2 linked regions of the Homo sapiens genome follow. The protein of the gene in region 2 interacts with the protein of the main gene of each other region in a pairwise test. Each region holds a gene or a part of one and is shown on either strand. Other genes may lie near its edges.

Evidence for each region. The genes of interacting proteins can lie anywhere in the genome.
Region 1: the proteins of EYA2 (region 2) and PAX9 interact in binary tests that used the Homo sapiens proteins (3 or more experiments, as listed by UniProt).

What each region holds. Positions count from the first base shown.
Region 1 is NC_000014.9:36,664,848-36,668,597, forward strand, and holds part of PAX9 (paired box protein Pax-9), read left to right. Parts: intron 1-1,614; coding exon 1,615-1,754; intron 1,755-3,750. UniProt on the Homo sapiens protein: Transcription factor required for normal development of thymus, parathyroid glands, ultimobranchial bodies, teeth, skeletal elements of skull and larynx as well as distal limbs.
Region 2 is NC_000020.11:47,184,730-47,188,479, forward strand, and holds part of EYA2 (protein phosphatase EYA2), read left to right. Parts: intron 1-3,323; coding exon 3,324-3,404; 3' UTR 3,405-3,750. UniProt on the Homo sapiens protein: Functions both as protein phosphatase and as transcriptional coactivator for SIX1, and probably also for SIX2, SIX4 and SIX5.

The DNA.
Region 1 (3,750 bases), on a different chromosome or scaffold from region 2:
AAGTTTACAAGAGCCCAGTTTTGTCTTATTTGGAGCTACTTGGAGCCATAGTTGGAGAGAGTTTGCCCTTGATTTATAGGATAAACTGACCTCACTGACATTTAAAGGAAGCCCCTGTTCATGGGAAAGTGTGAGATCAGCAGAAATGGGGGCTCACAGGGGGATCTCAATTTCTTAAGATAACTTCAAGCTTGTGCCCACCGACTGCCTTTTGTCTGGGAAGGCAAAGACAGACAGGCAGTTCTGGACCAAAACACAGTTTCCTGGTGCAAATGGGACTCAATCTAATTCTTGGGGGTGGTAGAGGAGGAGACATAGTGAAAAAAAAAAAAAAAAAAAAAGGCTGACAGAGTTTAAAAGAAAACTTTTCCTGCCTAGGGATCCTACCATCAGAGCAAATGTCAGTTGGGAAAGTATTGGAGAATGGAAAGGAGCAACTTTTCCTTTCAGATATTATTGTGATTTTGGATGCCAGCTTTAAACAACCCAGTTTGTGACACATTTGTGATTATAAAAATGATCATTTCTACAAAAATGCTCACTCTTTTAAAGCACTGTGTTAGATGGAAGTGTTTAAAATCAAGTTACAATGGCTTTGCCAAACCACTCCTCCACCCATAGGACCCAAAGACAAACATACATTGTTTGTAGCCTTCACATATCTCTTTGAAACTATACCTGGTCACTGAAAAATGCCAATAATTCAATATTCTCAACCCCAGGTATTATAGTAATTACTTTACACCATACAATTTTCTTTGCATCTCCACCAAGAACAGAAAGAATAACTGATGGCATTACACCTTAACACTTAATTTTACTTTCATTTTCTTAACCTATTTCATTTTCTCTTTCTTGTATATACATTTTTTAAACTCTTTCAGGAAAACCCTGCCACTAACACCCATGGCATGTATAGTGGTAATTGCAAGATTTATTTTTAAGTCATATGCACATATCACATATGTAATGTGTAGAGGTAGTGTATCAAGGGGAGCCCTATGCACACACAAAGCAGAAATCTGTGCATGTATATTTTGCACTGTATCGTGGGAATAATTTAGTTATTTGTTTGCAAAGGACAGTGCAGGTCTTTTTGTTCTCTATTGACATAAGTACCAGATCCCCACAGTGCAGTGAGCACCAGTGCAGGCACCCTTAGGTCAGACGCTCCTCTCTTTCTTTTCAGCCAGCCCCACTGCCAAATTGTTGTCAACCCCCAGTCGGCCTTGGGTTAAGAATGAGGAGGTGGAGAACGGCACGTGCAGCCTTAAGGGTTCCTTCTCCGATTTAGGTTTCTTCCACTCCTTTGCCCTGGGAGAGCAAAGGGGCGAAGGGAAATCAAAAACCGGTTGAAAAAGAAAAAAGTGTCTTCCCTCAGGCGTGGGTCAGAGAATTTGGAAAGGCCTACTCTGAGGGGAGTAAAACTTCACCAGGCCCTGGGCTGGAAGCACAGGAGGTCGCGGCTGGGCCCAGCGCCCTCGGGAGGCCAAGGGCAGGGAGCCGACCCAAGGTCTAAGCCCTCCAGCTCTCCGTCGCGGGTTTGGGTCCCGTCTCAAGAGTGGGGCGCGCGGGCTGGGCCTCCGGCCTGACACCCTCTCTTCTCTCCATCAGTGAGCGACAGCTCCCCCTACCACAGCCCCAAGGTGGAGGAGTGGAGCAGCCTGGGCCGCAACAACTTCCCCGCCGCCGCCCCGCACGCGGTGAACGGGTTGGAGAAGGGAGCCCTGGAGCAGGAAGCCAAGTACGGTCAGGTGAGGAGGCGAGGGTCAGGCCAGGTGGGCCGCGTGGCGGCGGGGATTTAGGCGATGGAACACTTTGTGATGGGTCCCTTTCTGAGCTTCCCGCGAGAGAAGCCCAGGCTGGCGTCCCTTTGCTGCTACGAGCCAGATCCTTCGTGGACTGGGGCGAAGCAGAGGCCTGAGCCTTGGAAGGCGGAGCTGGGGCCTCGACCCCCGCCAGGGGCCGGGAGCGCTCGTCAGGGCGCTGGGGGTCTGGGGCGGCAGCTCCCCGGGGCGAGGCTCTGGGAAGCGCCTCCAGGCCTGTCGGCCTCCGGGAGCTTGGGGAGGCGGCTCCCGAAGCCCTTTCGGCGGCTCTCGTTGGGGGTAGAGTTAACCAAAGAAGGCGCTTCTGAAGGGCCGAGCGGAGCAGCCCTGGGGCCTCAGAGCCGCGCCTTCACGCCCGCGAAACGCGCGCCCCGGGTCTCGGCCCCACGGTGCGACTGCGGCTGCGGGGTCCTCACGTTCGGACTTTCTCTCCGGTGGCTCTCGGACAAACACGCTTGGCCAATCCTGCGGAGAGGGGCACCCAGATAAACGTAACAAAGCTACCATTTTCTCGACTAAAGGTCACATTGTAATCTCCCAAGGAAGTTAGTGAGAAAACCTCAAATTATACGGACTGGCTGTGGACCGTTTAATTTTTCTTTCCCTCCGTCCCTCCCTCATGTCTCCAAAGGAAAATTTAAAACACTCGTGTTTTTATTTTCCCCCCGAGAAAAGCTAAACAACCACCACAACAAAAGCCCCAGATTTAAGTCTAAATTCATCACCGTCCTGGAGTCAAGAGTTCAAAACTCTCAAAAAACCGGACCTTAAGGCAATGTAAGGTTTCCCCAGCAGACCCCAGTAGGTTTGCAAATCTCTTAATCCCAAACTCAATTCCAAAGCCTCAAGCTATTCAGTTTTCCTTTTATTATTTTGAAGACTTAAAATTTTTAATGCTTTTTTGTCTGTCAAAATCAGCTTTTAAAATTAAGTGGAATTTGTTCCTCTTATTCACTTGAAAAAACATCTTAGTCATTATTTTCTGTAACAAATCCCATTTCCACTTCCTCTTCCCTCTCTTATTTTGTTGAAATAGAATCAGAATACATATTAGTGGCTCTCCAATGGCAAATAACACAGAAAATAGCAAGGAAAGAGAGCCCTTTTCCTTAGTCTGTTTCTACTGTGAAGAATGTCAATGAGAAATGATAAGGAAGTTTGTCATTTTCTTTTACTAAACGACCCACCCTTAATTCGTAATTTGCAAAGAAAAGGCAGAATAGTACAATGGTTAGGAGCTCCGATCTCTGGCTGTACGACTTCTTAGGAAAATATTTAATTTTTAGTCTCTATTTCTTCATCTTTAAAACAGGGAAATGATATTCCCAACCCAGAGATGTTATGAGTATTCAATGAGATAATGCAACCATATGGCACATAGTAAGCATTTATTAAGTATTGTCTGTGGTTCTAAGTGGCAGTTAAAAAGACACGTGTAAAAGTAAGTAATATTTATCAGAGTATACTTTGTTCTGAGAGACCATAGTCAAAAAGCTTCAAGAGATTTTGTTACAAACAATAGAAAGAGTGTATATAAAGCACCTACCATAGAAGCAAGCATTTAATAGGCGCTCAGTGCTTTTTATTAGGTCATCATTGATTGGAATAACATTGTGAAGTATAGAGTTGAAAAAGTTTCTAATTCCCACATGTCATTGATGAACCCAGTTTATATATCAAGCAGTCATAATCCCAAAAAAAACCCTTTATACTTATTATTTATTTATTTATTTTGAGACGGAGTCTAGCTCTGTCGCCAGGTTGGAGTGCAGTGGCGCGATCTCTACTTATTGCAGCCTCTGCCTCCCGGGTTCAAGCGGTTCTCCTGCCTCAGCCTCCTGAGTAGCTGGGATTACAGGCACGCGCCGCCACACCCACCTAATTTTTGTGTTTTTAGTAGAGAGAGGGTTTCACCATGTTGGCC
Region 2 (3,750 bases):
GATGACAGAATTTGAGACTCAGAAAGGTTAATTAATTTGCCTAGGGTCACACATCTAGCACATGCAAACCTACCTGTGTCATGCTCCAAACGCCTGGCAGGGAGGAGACGGACTTACGAGTTTCAAACACGGTTGGTTTTCACCCCTGAGCTAGTCAGGCAAGAGTAGAGTCAGCCAAAGAAGACTAGGTACACACCCACCACACACAGAACTCCCATAAAAGTCCCAGTGTCTGAGGCAGAAGCCTCAGAACGTTAGTGAGAAACAGTGTCCACCAGCAGCTCTCTCAGCCTGACAAATGGAAGTCATTAGCCCAGGCCACCGGAAATCTGAGCGGTGTAAAATATGGCCGCAGGACCAGGGGCCTTGACTGTTTCCGCTGACAGTGTTGTTAATATCTCCATTTTAGTGGGTGATTTGTCTCCACCTCTTCACGAGTGATGAATCCACTGGCACTCTGGAACCTTTAAGCCTGGGGTAAAGGCGGCTAGAACATTCTCTTTCTTCCACCTTTGCTCATTCTCTCCCAGAAAAATGAATCACACTCTTTTTTTTTTTTTTTTTTTTTTTTTTTTTTTTTTTTTTTTTTGAGACAGAATCTCACTGTGTCGCCCAGGCTGGAGTGCAGTAGCATGATCTCGGCTCACTGCAACCTCCACCTCCCAGGTTCAAGCGATTCTTGTGCCTCAGCCTCCTGAGTAGCTGGGATTACAGGCATGAGCCACCACATGTGGCTAATTTTTTGTAATTTTAATAGAGACGGGGTTTTGCCATGTTGGCCAGGCTGGTCTCGAACTCCTGACCTCAGGTGATCCGACCACCTCAGCCTCCCAAAGTACTGGGATTAGAGGTGTGAGCCACCACACTCAGCCAAATTACACTCTTTAAAGAGGGCAGGATTGGCCAGGTGGCAACCAGAATCTATCTTTGCAAAGAAAGGAGGGCTTGGCCGGGATGAGGGCAGGGTGGGAATGCTAGGGCAGTGAGAAGGCGTTGAAGAGATGAGAGCTGTTCCCATAGGAGATGGTTTTCTGCTTCCCTTGAGCTGAGAATTGTTTAGAAACTACAGAACAAAGAGAAAAGGATACATTCAGAGGACTTTGCTTGAGAAACTTACCTTCTTTTTTTCCCTCTCTCTCTTCCTCTTTTCATTCCTTCTACGAATATTTCTTGAGCACCTACTATGTGTCAAGAGCCATGCGGTGCAGCAATGAGCATTGCATTCCAAGCTCAACCTTCCTGGGGCCTTTGCACTTGCTGTGTCTTCTACCTGCCCCCACGTTCCCCCACATCTTTGCCAGGGCCTGCTTAAATGACACTCCCTGGAGAGGCCTTTCCTGACCCAGCTCTCAAAAGTAGACACACAAAGCTGCTTTCTACCCTATCTCATTCTGTTTCCTTCCTAGCACTTACCAGGAGATGAACTTATCTTGTTTATTTCTTATCTGTGGGTTTATCTGAGCCTCCAATGAAAGCCCCATAAGTGTTTGTGACCTGTACAGAAGGCCCCACTGGGGTCTGCCCCTGGCATCTTTATAGATCTTCCTTTGCTCACTGAGGGATTCTCAATCTGGGATGCCCTTCCCTTCAGTGACCTGCTAACTATGAAGCACTTATTCTTTTTTTTTTTTTTTTTTTTTTTTTTTTGAGATGAAGTTTCACTCTTGTTGCCCAGGTTGGAGTGCAGTGGCATGATCTCAACTCACTGCATCCTCTGCCTCCTGTGTTCAAGTGATTCTCCTGCCCCAGCCTCCCAAGTAGCTGGGATTACAGGTGGCCACCACCACGCCCAGCTGATTCTTGTATTTTAGTAGAGATGGGGTTTCACCATGTTGGCCAGGCTGGTCTCAAATTCCTGATTTCAGGTAGTCCACCCGCCTTGGCCTCCCAAAGTCCTAGGATTACAGGCGTGAGCCACCACGCCCGGCCTCCTCATTCGTTCTTCAAGGTCTGGGTCTCATGCGCTTCTTGTCCCCTGAGACACCCCCATCCCATTCACTTCTACCAAAAAAGAGGCTGCTTCCTCTGGCTGGCTCCCATGACATTTTATTTACACCTGCCTTAATGATTTCTTTACATTCTTCCTAAGGTAGTCTTATTTATTATCTTTTAAACTACTGAGAAACGCCAGCATTCTTTCTTCCATATACATGCACATATATATACAATTTGTCCTGCATCCTTCCTTTTTCCTATTTACCTAGATATGTCCCTAGCTACTCAGGAGGCTGAGTCAGGAAAATCAGTTGAGCCCAAGAGATCAAGGCTGCAGTGAGCCATGATCTGCATTCCAGCATGGACAACAAACTGAGACTCCATCTCTAAAATTAAAAAAAAAAATTAATGAAACGAAATTCAGCTGGGCACAATGGCTCATGCCTGTAATCCCAACACTTTGGGAGGCTGAGGTGGGTGGATCGCTTGAGCCCAGTAGTTTGAGACCAGCCTGGTCACCATGGTGAAACCCTATCTCTACAAAAAATACAAAAATTAGCCAGATGTGGTGGCATGCATCTGTTGTCCCAGCTACCCGGGAGGCTAAGGTAGGAGGATCGCTTGAGCCTGGGAGGTTGAGGCTGCAGTGAGCAGAGATCATGTCACTGCACTCTAGCCTGTCTCAAAAGAAAGAAAGAAAGAAAAAAAAAACTCCACATCATGACAATAACTTGAAGCAGGTACCACCTGCTGCAAAGAAAAGGAAAAGATAAAAACGAAAGCTATAAAGAAAACAGATTAGTGTCATCTGACCTGGCTAGCTACAGTGGCCTGCTGAAGACTCTCCAAGACCAGCTCTGTTTGTTCACAGTGGAGACTGTCAATGCTGGGGAGGGGTTCCAGCACCGAGCTGTGACTTTCTTCTTGAAGTAACAGGATTCAGAGCACTGCAGCCTCCAATTCCCGGCCTCAAGCAATCCTCCCGCCTCAGCCTCCCAAAGTGCTGGGATTACAAACGTGGGCCACAGTGCCCAGGCAAGAACAAATTTTTAAAAAGGAATCGCTTTCCCATTGTGCAATTTAACACCATGTCAGTGCACCGCCTAAGACCACGCTGGTACCAACAGAGGCGAGAGGGTCAAACAGCGAACACGCTGGGCAGTGCTGGATAAGCCCGTCAGAGCAGGCTCTGAATAGAAATGGTTGGCCATACTGGTGGGTACTGGCCAGATGTGGGTCTGCCAGCAACATCAAGTGCCCCATAGTTTGGGAAGTCCCCACGTGCTAGACTTAACTGGGTTGACTTCTCACATGCCCTCTAACCACAGGCGTGGAACCCGGGGGCAGGGGCGGGGCCATAACCTTGTGGCTGGTGTTCTGTGTTTCAGCACAACATGCCTTTCTGGCGGATATCCTGCCACGCAGACCTGGAGGCACTGAGGCACGCCCTGGAGCTGGAGTATTTATAGCAGGATCAGCAGCATCTCCACCTGCCATCTCACCCTCAGACCCCCTCGCCTTCCCCACCTCCCCACCGAGAACTCCAGAGACCCAGATGTTGGACACCAGGAAGGGGCCCCACAGCCGAGACGACGTGTCCAGTGACCATCTCAGAAGCCGTCCATCAGTCCAAATGGGGGTTCTGAGAAGGAAAGTACCCAACATTGGCTTCGGAGTATTTGACTTTGGGGAAAAGGGCTGGCTCGGAGTCTAGACTCTTCTGTAAGACTCACAGAACAAAAGCAAGGAATTGCTGATTTGGGGGGTGCCTGGTGATGAGGAGGGGATGGGTTTGTCTTGTCTTCTTTTTAATTT